Linked DNA regions of Homo sapiens: region 1 is linked to region 2. The links come from fine-mapping of genetic effects on gene expression. A gene starts in region 2. The other region holds a variant in brackets. All regions are shown on one strand. Distances are from middle to middle.

Evidence for each region.
Region 1: its variant is fine-mapped to the expression of GPX3 in whole blood (TOPMed, PIP 0.96).

The regions. Positions count from the first base shown.
Region 1 is chr5:151,050,176-151,055,175 of GRCh38, reverse strand. TNIP1 (TNFAIP3 interacting protein 1) reads left to right here. Exons shown (of 18, transcript NM_006058.5): 7 at 2,917-3,011. Among named protein-coding and RNA genes, the nearest start is that of TNIP1, 28 kb to the left of the region's middle. The variant A/G (reference allele first, on the strand shown) is at 2,080.
Region 2 is chr5:151,018,111-151,023,626 of GRCh38, reverse strand. It overlaps GPX3 (glutathione peroxidase 3), which reads right to left and starts at 3,036. Exons shown (of 5, transcript NM_002084.5): 1 at 2,886-3,036. The coding sequence starts at 2,972. RefSeq lists an enhancer at 392-1,591.

The sequences.
Region 1 (5,000 bases), 32 kb before region 2:
GTATTCACTGTTGCGTCCCAGTTCGTGGCACTTCATACACACTTGGTGAATGAATGAAAGGACAAAATAATAAATGATCAAATGAACTCATAGCTCTCGTAGCACCTTGGATGGAAGGTGATGATCTTTGTGACCTCTGATGATTCTATCCATTGGCCGGTTTGCACCCAGGGCATTGGCCCAGAGACTCCAAGGAAACAGCTCTCTAGACTGCAAGGGTAGGACAGCAAGTGAGGCCTTGTCCTGGCCTTCCCTTAGGGACTAGGAGCAGGCCATTCTGTTCCCTGGAGGCCTCGCCCAGAGACATGGCATCTTGGGTATTTTTACTGCCTGGGTGGAGGTGTATTGATCCAGTTCCTCCTCATTCATTCACTGATGTGTTTCTTGGTTCACTAAACAAACATATTCAAGGTCAGGTATAGCATAAGGCTCTCTGCTAGGCATTGAATGGACTCATAACAATAATTTTTTGATTTCTTTTTTTTAAGGGGTGTTGGGGGACAGGGTCTTGCTCCGCCACCCAGGCTGGAGTGCAGTGGTGCGACCACAGCTCACTACAGCCTTGACCTCCTGGGCTCAGTTCTCCCACCTCAGTTCCCTGAATAGCTGAGACTACATGCATGCGCCCTTATGCCTGGCCAATTTTTTGGTATTTTTAGTAGAGACAGGGTTTTGCCATGTTGCCCAGACTGGTGTTGAACTCCTGGGCTCAAGTGATCCTCCTGCCTCAGCCTCCCAAAGTGCTGGGATTACTGGTGTGAGCCACCATGCCCAGCTGGTTCTCTGTTTGCTAAGCCTCATCTCCCTCATTGTCCAGCCACCTCCAGTTGAAGGCTGTGTCCTCCATTCAGCCTTCCCAAGAGTCTCCTTTGTGAGTCAGAAATGAAACAACTCTGAAATCTCCCTGGGTTACACAACAAAAGTTTTCCCTCCTATTCTGTGTGGCAGGGGTTTGTTTCTGCTCTACACAGTTCCTTAGAGTCCCAGGGAGACAGGGGCCCAACTTTCCGGTGCCCTTTAGAATACGAGGCATCCACATCAGCCCCTGCTACCAGGAAAAAGAGACTGGAGAATTGTGCGTAGGCCAGTCCAGGAGTGATGCTTGTCCCTTCTACACCTCTTTTGTTGGCCAGAACTAGTCACATGGTTGCATCCACCTGCAACAGGCCTGGGAGGTGGAAGGCAGCAGATGGCTGTTTAGTGAATGGCCCTGGTCCTGGCCCAGCTCAAAGGCTGTCCCCTCCTTTGGGCACCATCTCTCTCCCTTCTCTGATCTTTCATCACAGGGGAAAGAGACACCAGTGTGGGGTCTGCCAATTGGAGTTTTACTCCCCGCCAGTGATGAGTCTTAGCAGCTGTGCACCTGTTAGACTGTATCATTTTACCTGGTTTCCCTACCTTTAACATAGAGATGAGTTACTTAGCTTTGAGGAAGTTGTGAGGCACCAGTGAGGCAGTATATGGAGAAACACCGAGCAATGTACCTGGCACAGGTGAGGTGCTCAGTGAGGATCTGTGGAAAGATTGAACAACTCTGTGCTGACACTGTATGCTAGCATTGCTAGTCAGCACCTTCCCTTCCCCCCAGCCTGTGAGGTCCTGAGTCTGGCGACCCCTCTTCCATGCCCCCAGTTCACAGAGCTTCCAATATGAGTCCCCGCACATAAGCAAGTGACTGATGGTTCATGGACACTTCCACTCTCACTGTCTCATCTGTCCCTCTCAGCAGCCCTATAGAGGAGGCAGAGAAGAAACAGTTGTCCCTGGGCTAGGTGTGGTGGCTCATGCCTGTAATCCCAGCACTTTGGGAGACTGAGGCAGGTGGATCACTTGAGGTCAGGAGTTTGATACCAGCCTGGCCAACATGGTGAAACCCCGTCTGTACTGAAAATACAAAAATTAGCCAGGCATGGTGGCACACACCTGTAGTTCCAGCTACTCAGGAGGCTGAGGCAGGAGAATCTCTTGAACCTGGGAGGTGGAGGTTGCAGTGAGCTGAGATCATGCTACTGCAGTCCAGCCTGGGCAACAGAGTGAGACTCTGTCTTAAAAAAAAAAAAAAAAAAAAAAAAAAGAGAA[A/G]CAGTTGTCTTTCTTTTGTAGAGGAGGAACCAAGTGTCACAGCCACATTGTGAGGGCGTGAGGGCATAGTGAGGTCCCGACTGAATGCCTTGTCTTCTGGTTTTCCCCTTGGCAACACTGGGCACCTCTCACACCTGCAAATTGGTGTGCCTTTCAGCCCCCCTAGGACTCGCCTGCTCATTTGTCCATTTGCTCATTTGGCTGTTCAGTCATGTTGTTCCTTCCACAAACTTTGAGCTGGGGGCTGGGGATCTGGCAGTGAACAAGAGGATGGTTAGGGGTCCCAGCCCTCCGGGAGCTCAGGAATTAATTAGGGGTAAGGGGGTAGATATTAAGAAAACAGCAGCACGAACAGTTCTTTAGCTTTATCTGCCACAGGTGCTGAGAAGCGTAAAAGCGGGGGGCTGTGAGCAAGGATAACGGAGTTAGCCTAATGTAGCTGGATCGGGGAGTCAGGGAGGACTTCTCTGAGGAGATGGGATTTAAACTAAGACTTCAAAGAAGGGTAGAAGTCAGCTGGGGGAGGCTGGTGGGGAATAGGGGTCCCGGCAGTGGGAGCAGGGATGAAGGAGAAGGGATGGAGCTGTCTGTCTTGGAGGAGCAGAAGGCCCCATGGCTGATACTTGGTCAGGCTTCTCCGTAGTTGGCTCCCAAGGGAGAGGACACGTGGGTGGCCAAGTGGCTTAGCTCCTTAGAGAGGGATGGGGTGAGGCCAGGCAAAGGGGATAAGGAGTTGGGCCCTGGGGTGGCTACAGGCCCCCCACCATCCTCTAGCTCAGCCTGCACCTGGGAGGGGCCCCTCCTTTCCCTCACCCTGTCTGTTCCCCTGCCCCACAGACCCTGTGTGAGCAGCTTCGGAAGGAGAACGAGGCTCTGAAGGCCAAGTTGGATAAGGGCCTGGAACAGCGGGATCAGGCTGCCGAGAGGCTGCGGTAAGTTCAGGCCCCTCAGAGAAGGGGTGAGGAGTGGGGGCTGCAGGAGGAGGGGCTGGTGTGCAGCACTGATTTCTGGGTTGAGGACCGTGGCTCTGAGGCCCTGTGCCCAGAGCCCTATTTGGAGGTTACGTCTCTTGATCCTTCTCCTTGGCTCTTTTGGTATTTTCTCTCTGGCCCTTTTGCCACCTTGGGAGGTGTATAGAGTGCCTTGAGAGCTTCAGAAGAAGGTCAGCATAGATTGTACTTCCTTCCTCCTCCAGCACTTGCCTCTCTCCCCTGTTAACGGTGAACTGGCTGTCCAGAGGACTCAGGACTTTGCTGCCTCCTGCTGGTCACCATCCCAACCTGCTCTGTCTTCCTGAGAACATGAGAGCTCCCCCACTGGACTAGGGGGCTTAGACTTAACTGAGGGTTGAGGGTCAGGGAAAGGCATTACAAGTTTATACGCCTTCCCTTCCTTCCTTTGCAAGATTCTGAATTGACAGGTCTTAGGCAAGACCTAGGAGCCTGCATTTCACCAGGAGTCTCTGTGATTATGAACGAGGTAGGCACAGGATCACGCCTTGGGAAACACTGATCTTGACTGTCAGAGCTTGACAAGCCCTTGGAGATCATGCAGACAGACCTCTCACTGTGCAGAGGGGAAACTGAGGCCCAGGGAGAGGCAGGGACTTGATTGGAGTCTTACAACAGGAACTTGGGCCTCCTTGCTCTCCATCCTGTGAGTGGCCACAATTCCTGCCTGCACTGTGGTCCTGGACAGTTTGGGTGATGAGTCATCTGGTGGGTACCAGCTGGGCTCAGGCACATAGGAAAGGCCCGTGTCACAGACAGGACTTGCCACTCTGTTTTTCCCTCCTCTCCTGTTTCTTATTAGAATCAACAGAAAGAGAAGGAATATAAACTTTGTAAGTATGGCCACAGAAGTAATGTTTAACTACTGAGCCACTGGCTATTTTGAATCAGTGTGTAATTTATTTGCTTTTGGATGGCCAAGGATGCACTTTTGGGGTTTTTATAGCCCTAGTGACCCCATCCATGGATTCAGAAACTGAAGCTGGGGAAAAAAGTCACGGATTAGAAGGCAAGAATGCAAGTCTCTGCTGTATGACCTTGGGAAAGTCATTTTACTTATTGGTTTTTCAAGCGGAAACTCAGCTGGCAAATAGAACATAAAGAAGTGGTGGTTGGGCGTTGTGGCTCACACCTGTAATCCCAGCACTTTGGGACGTTAAGGCGGGAGGATTGCTTTGAGTCCATGAGTTTGAGACCAGCCTGGTGAAATACATCACCACCCCTCCCCCAGCCCCAACAAAAAATACCAAAAAAATTAGCTGGGTGTGGTGGTGTGCCTGTAGTCCCAGCTACTCAAGAGGGTGGGGGTGTGTGGTGGGGGAGGTTGGGGGTGGCTGAGGTGGGAGGATTACTTGAGTAGGAGCAGTCGAGGCTGTGGTGAGCCGAGATTGGGCCACTGTACTCCAGCCTGGGTGACAGAACGAGACCCTATCTCAAAAAAAAGAAAGAAGAAACATTTTAGTCAGACCTGAATCCACATCACTAATTTTATGATCTCCTCTATCACCTGCCTTATTAGTTACTTAGAATTTTACTTTAATTTGATTCATCTTTTTACTTAAAATTATAAAGGCAACTTTAACTAGAGTAAATGGAAAACAGCATTACCTGTGATAAATAGAAGATAACTCTAAATACAATGAAAGTGAAAGGATGTTAATAAATTCAGGCTAAGGATCATTGCACATTGAAGGCTCTGGGCCTGCAGCCTGCACCTTCTGTGTTAACGAGGGAAACTGGCGAGTAACTAGAGAGGTGCCCAGGGCCTGTTAGCACCAAGCTCGCACCGTCTCCGTGGTCTACACAAGAAATGTGAAGATAATTGGAAAGGGTGTCACTTTCTCACTAGAATGTGATCCAGGGTTATTTAATGCAGTGTTTGGATATATCCGGAAGGTCTTGTGTGCATAG
Region 2 (5,516 bases):
TTTTTTAACTCTGCCATGATCCAAAAATGAACTCTGAGACATGGAGGAAAAAAAGATTACAGGTTGTCCTAATAATGGGAACTTGTAAACAGAAGGACCAGCTTCTGGGCACAGTTTCAGCTTGGGGGTGTGGCAAGGAGAACCCTATTTCATTAGGTTCTATTTTTTGCTGGCTGTGTGGCCCTGAGCAAGTCACTTACACTGTCTGGGCATATGTCCAGGGAGATAAGCATGCTGCTGCCCAAAATGGTTGTGGGAATCTGCTGGCAGAGCAAAACAGGCCTGGAGTCTCTTGGAACGAAATCTCATGTCAAGGGATAGTGGGGGTCAGAAGGTGGCCCATGGGTGGAGAGCCACGGCTGTGCTCACCACTGATCACTGCAACTCAGTCCTCTATGAGCCCCCTTCCCTTCTCTGGGCACGTGGAATCCCAGAGCACCGCATCTGAAACAGTGGCCAGAGGAGATAAGGGGAGAGGCCATGAGGGTGCCTGAATCCTCCCACAGCCGGGCAAGAGAAGAGGGTTCCAATGGCTTGAGAGTTGGATGATGGGACTCAGCCAGGACTCTGGCTGGCTGGGGCTGCTGGTCTTGTGTCTTTCTCCTCTCCCGTCTTATTACTCCTATCAATATGATGCTGTGAGAAGTGGTCTGGGAGTCAGGAGACCTGAGTGCTGGGCTTTGCTGTGTCTCTGATGCCATGTGACCCCCTTTGCTGGGGCTCCAGCTCCTCCATTGTAAGATGGAGTCAGGTTCAGGGCTGTCTTAAGGGCCCTTTAACTCTGTCAGCCTGTGGTTCCATGATTCTCTCTGCCAGGTTTAGTCACCTAGAAACCAGCAGTTACTAGGATCCCGTGCACGTCAGCAGTTGTCACTCTTTCCGGCTTCTGCAGTCCTTTTGTAGAGACAAGGAGCGTGGGCAGCCTGAAGTTGGACTGGGGAGGTGACGCAGCAAGAAGAGGAGGACCTGGTCTCTTCCCTAGCATCTCCCTTTCAATTGGTAGGAGGAAAACACCTCTCTGGGGCTGAGTCACCTTTCGTCCATTCCATTCTCCACATGCCCCATAACCCTATCTCTTTACCCTGGGGTTGGGGGTAAGGTGAGTGGTTGGGTCCTAACCCAGAGCTAAGACATCTGAACTCTAAGAACTTGGGAGCAGAGATGGGCATGCCCAGGCTTTCATTAGCCAGCAAGTCCTGACTGGTTGTATGTGATATGATCACACCTCACCCTAAAACTTTTCTAGACCATCCCCATCCTATTCTCTCTGAGTCCATTTATCCTTCCCCAGAGTGCTGCAGAGAAGACACAGCTATGATGAGTTATTCATGGAGTCCACGTTCTCCCCACTAGCCTTCTTGAGGCAGGGCCCAATTGTATCTTCTTTGACCTTTCCAAAACTGAAGGTTGGGACTGACTCCACGGTGCTGGCCTGTCTATGGCCCACCCCAAACCTCAATGTTGAAAATCGATCCCATTCCTGACCTGGAAAATGCCTTCTGAGTTGGGGATTATGAACAGGGATGGATAAAAAGGAGGGGACTTGGACGAAGTGGCTTCACATCCATTTAGACTGACTCCAAGGAGAGGCTGATTAATCGGATTTAGGCTGAGGACCGAAAAGGGGTGAGTAACATGGAAGGAACCCTGTGCTTCCAATGGGCTTCCTGAGAAGTGGACAGAATTTTGGAAACGGAATCCTAGACTCATAAGAACTTAATTAAAGTGAAGACCCAGAGGATTTTAGAAACAAAAGCTCAGAGCTTGCAAAAATGTGAGTTATGCATGTTGGGAAGTTGGAGACAGAAATCGCTCGCTTTGAGTCTATCCCTACACCTGGCTTCTGCCTCCTTCCCCACCCACTCCCACTCCCTGGGTAGAGGAGAGGTCTACAGAGCCCACCCCAGTACATACTGTCAAAGGAGATAAGCATGCTGGGTCATCCCACTCCTGGCCTCAGTATCCCCACTCCAGGTGTGGGCCACACACCTGCTGGAAATAGACTGAGGCTCTAGAGAATTCTACCTCTTCTTCTGAATTAGCAGTCCCCAGCTTTCTCCAACTACCAGGTTTCCTCAGGCTAATGAGGACAGTGGGTCCTGGGTAGTGAGGCTGCCCCAGGGGAGGAAATTTCAGAGAACAGCTTGTGGATTTTTCAGCTTCTCCAAGCATCCCCTCTGAGGCCCTCAGCTTCATTGTGCCCCATGCACTCCCACCCCCAAACTCTCCCCTGCAGATGGAGAAACGGGGGTCCAGGAGCAGGTAAGGACTCAGGGTCCTGAGTGTTCTGCACTGTCACTCCAGAGCTCTTTCTAGCACAGATCTCTGCCTCTTCTACCAATGCCCTGAATCCAAGTGGCCATTTCTACCTGCCTGTATCATTCTTGGGGTAGAAGAGCCCCCCACAGCAGTTCTTCAGGACCAGGACCACCCAGCTGCCTCTCTCCTTTCTCCTTGTCTCTCTCCCTGGGAACTTGCACAGCCCACCCAGACGCTGGGCATTTTTTTCTGTGACGCCCTCCCTCTTAGGCCCTACTGAAGGGGAGCAGCTCAGGCACGGAGGTGACATAGATGTAGCAAGGCGACCCTCGAGGTGGCAGTGGGGAGAAAGTGCGAGCTCGGGGAGAGAGACCTTCCTCCCTTAGTCATTCTGCCCGCCTGAAGCACCAGGTCTCGGCTCTCCAACAGATGGAACTACGAGACGACGACGGTCGGGGGCGGGGTCCCGGCGGCGGAGGGGGCGGCAAAAGGGGTTCAGGAGGTCTCTCGCACCTGGGGATTGCCCATCTGGCGGGGAGCCTGGGAAAAGGGGTGCATTGCACTGAGCGCTGGACACCGAGGGGCTAGGTTTTTTCTCCCGGCCCCCGGCCCGGAGGCTCACTCACCTTCGACTTCTCTTGTCCCCGGCTCTGCGAGACGAAGCCGGCCAGGAGCAGGGAAAGCAGGCAGGACGCCTGCAGCAGCCGGGCCATGGCGGGGTGGGGGCACACTCAGGGTCGCCTGAGCCGCTGCCTGATCCCTGGCCACCGTCCGTCTGAGGTGTCCGGCGCTCCCAGCCACCTTTCAAGCCCTCGGGTGTGACCAATCCGCGGCCAAGCCGAGACCCTTGCAGCCAATCGCTAGGCGGCTGGGATTTCAGGGGCGGGCGCGACTTGCCCTCAGCTCCCCACCTCCCCGTCCCGGGGCGACAGTGACATAAGCAAATCTGGGCAGAGAGGTGGAAGTCAGGTCCCTGTGGACGTGGGAGGCGGTCCCTTCCTCTTTTGGCTCCAAAGTGCGAAAGGAGGCAGACACAGCGGTCTCCATTACAGCCAGGGCAAGGGGGCTAATAGCTCCCTAGAACTGATGGAAGTCTCCATTCTGGGAAGCATTTCTTATTCCTATCGAGGTTTTAAAAACACCTGGCGATGGTCCTCTGGAAATTGAGGGTTTAAAATTTCAGCAAGAGCTGAAGTTAAACTTCCAGAAACATTTACTATATATAGGTTTAGTGCTTAAGAAACAAAGAGTGGGTGTCCTGGGATTTTGAAAACCCCATTCTGGGTAGGGCATTAGGACTGTAGGGACAGAGAAGGTGGGGTGCCTTTCCTCCCCATCATAAGGATCACAGCTGACATGCCTGTAGAAAAAGGTTAGCAAGAGAAAAGCATAACGATTTATTTAATTAAAGTTTTCTGTGACATGAGAGTCTTCAGAAATGAAGACCCAAAGACTCAAGGAAAACTCTATTTTTAGGCTTAGATTCTATGAAGACCATGGAAATGCGCAGAAATGTGAGTGGGGAAAAAGGGAATGGTCTAATAGTAATAAACTGAGTGGGAAACCCAGCAAGGCTTGTCTGTTCGTATTCTTCTTGGCCTATCTGTGGCCAAACCACCTGGCTTAGAAGCAGAAAATAAATTTGCTCCCTGTGTAGTCTTTAACATGTTGCAGTTACTCTCTGGGCCTCAGTTTCCTCAGCTATGTAATGATGGGATTGATTAGTGATCTCCAGTGCCCTTCTGGCTCTGGCTAGATGACTTGTTTCTAAAGTAAGTGACAGACGGAGACCAGGAGTCCTTTGAGAATAGGGCCCATAATCACCACCTGGCACAGGGCCTAGCACACAAGAGATGTAAAGTATTTGCTGACTTAATCATTCATTACATTAAAAAAACAAAATCTCCATGGAACACTTAGGATCAGACCAGGCAGTTCTAGGGCTGGGCTGTCTAGGTATGATCCCGTTCACAGATGGGGAATGTGATGGAATCAGTCTCAAATCTCTCTGACCACCAGAGTCAACTGGGAAGCCTTTAATACAGATTCCTGGACCCCACTTTGGAATCACTGCATTAGAATCTCTAGGGGCAGAAGCTGAAAATCTGTCTTCAGACATGTTCTAAGGTTATTGTGAGGCAGTTGGCCTGGCTGTAGCCTTGGTAGTGTGAGTCCTAGGATTAAGTGCCTTCTGGAACTTTCTTCTGACCAAGAAATGCCTTGAGAAACCATACCTTTACTATGATTAAAGGTATTAACATCCCCCTGGGAATTTGGAAGATGTCTCTCAAGTTTTGCATTCTCTACGAAGTCTTCCCACCTCAAACCACAGCCTGTTGAAGTGGAAGGAACCACAGAGGCCAGGAAGTCTTTAGCTGAGTTAAAGCCTGGGAGCATATGAACAATGGCTGACACACAGTAAGTGCTCAATACGTTTTATTCAACCACCTCATTTCCCTGAAGCCTAGAGATGAGGAGCAATTTATCCAAGTTCCCATAACCAACTGATGGCAGGGAGGGAACCAGAATCCAGGTCTCTAGACTCAGTCTCAGGCCCTCTCCATGTTGTTCTGTTGTCTTTTAAGGTTCGTATTTACCCTAAAATATAAACATCTGTGTGCACATCAGTTTGTCAGAAATCCATTGTTCATTAGTATCAGTAGGCATCTAGTGACCCTCAAAATAGGCACCTAGCAACATGTTAACACCATGAGAGATGCTAAAGAGTTGTCTAAAAGCCAAAGTCCCTGCTCTCAAAGGTGTTTCCAGCAGATACCAGCAGGGTGAGGGAAGGGAAGGCACCTAGGGTCACACAAGTGCAGGCTGGCACCTGGCAGCGGGCATCTCTCTACATTTTGCACCCTCTATGTCTCACTTGTCTCACCTTAATCCCAGCCCTGGTGGTCTATTTCTTTAGGGGAGACAAGAAGGAGCCAGAGACCTGAGATGCTACCCCTGGATTGCTACGGAAAGTAATAAAATTACTTTCCTTCTCTGATCTCAGTTGTCCACCTATTTAACAAGGATCTTTGACAGTCTCTCAGTGGTGGTGTCTGTGGCTTTTCATTCCTAAGAGTATAAGGAAAGCCTGAGCCATACAAAACAGGAGTACAAAACTGATGACATGGACAGTGGGGTGGGGAGGCTTGGGGAGCCTGCCCTGGCATTAAGAAGGGCTTTCATGCTGCAGTGAGCTTTCAAAGGAGGTCTAACCATTGGCACAAAGAGCATGACAGTGAAAACAATGAGAATGAAAA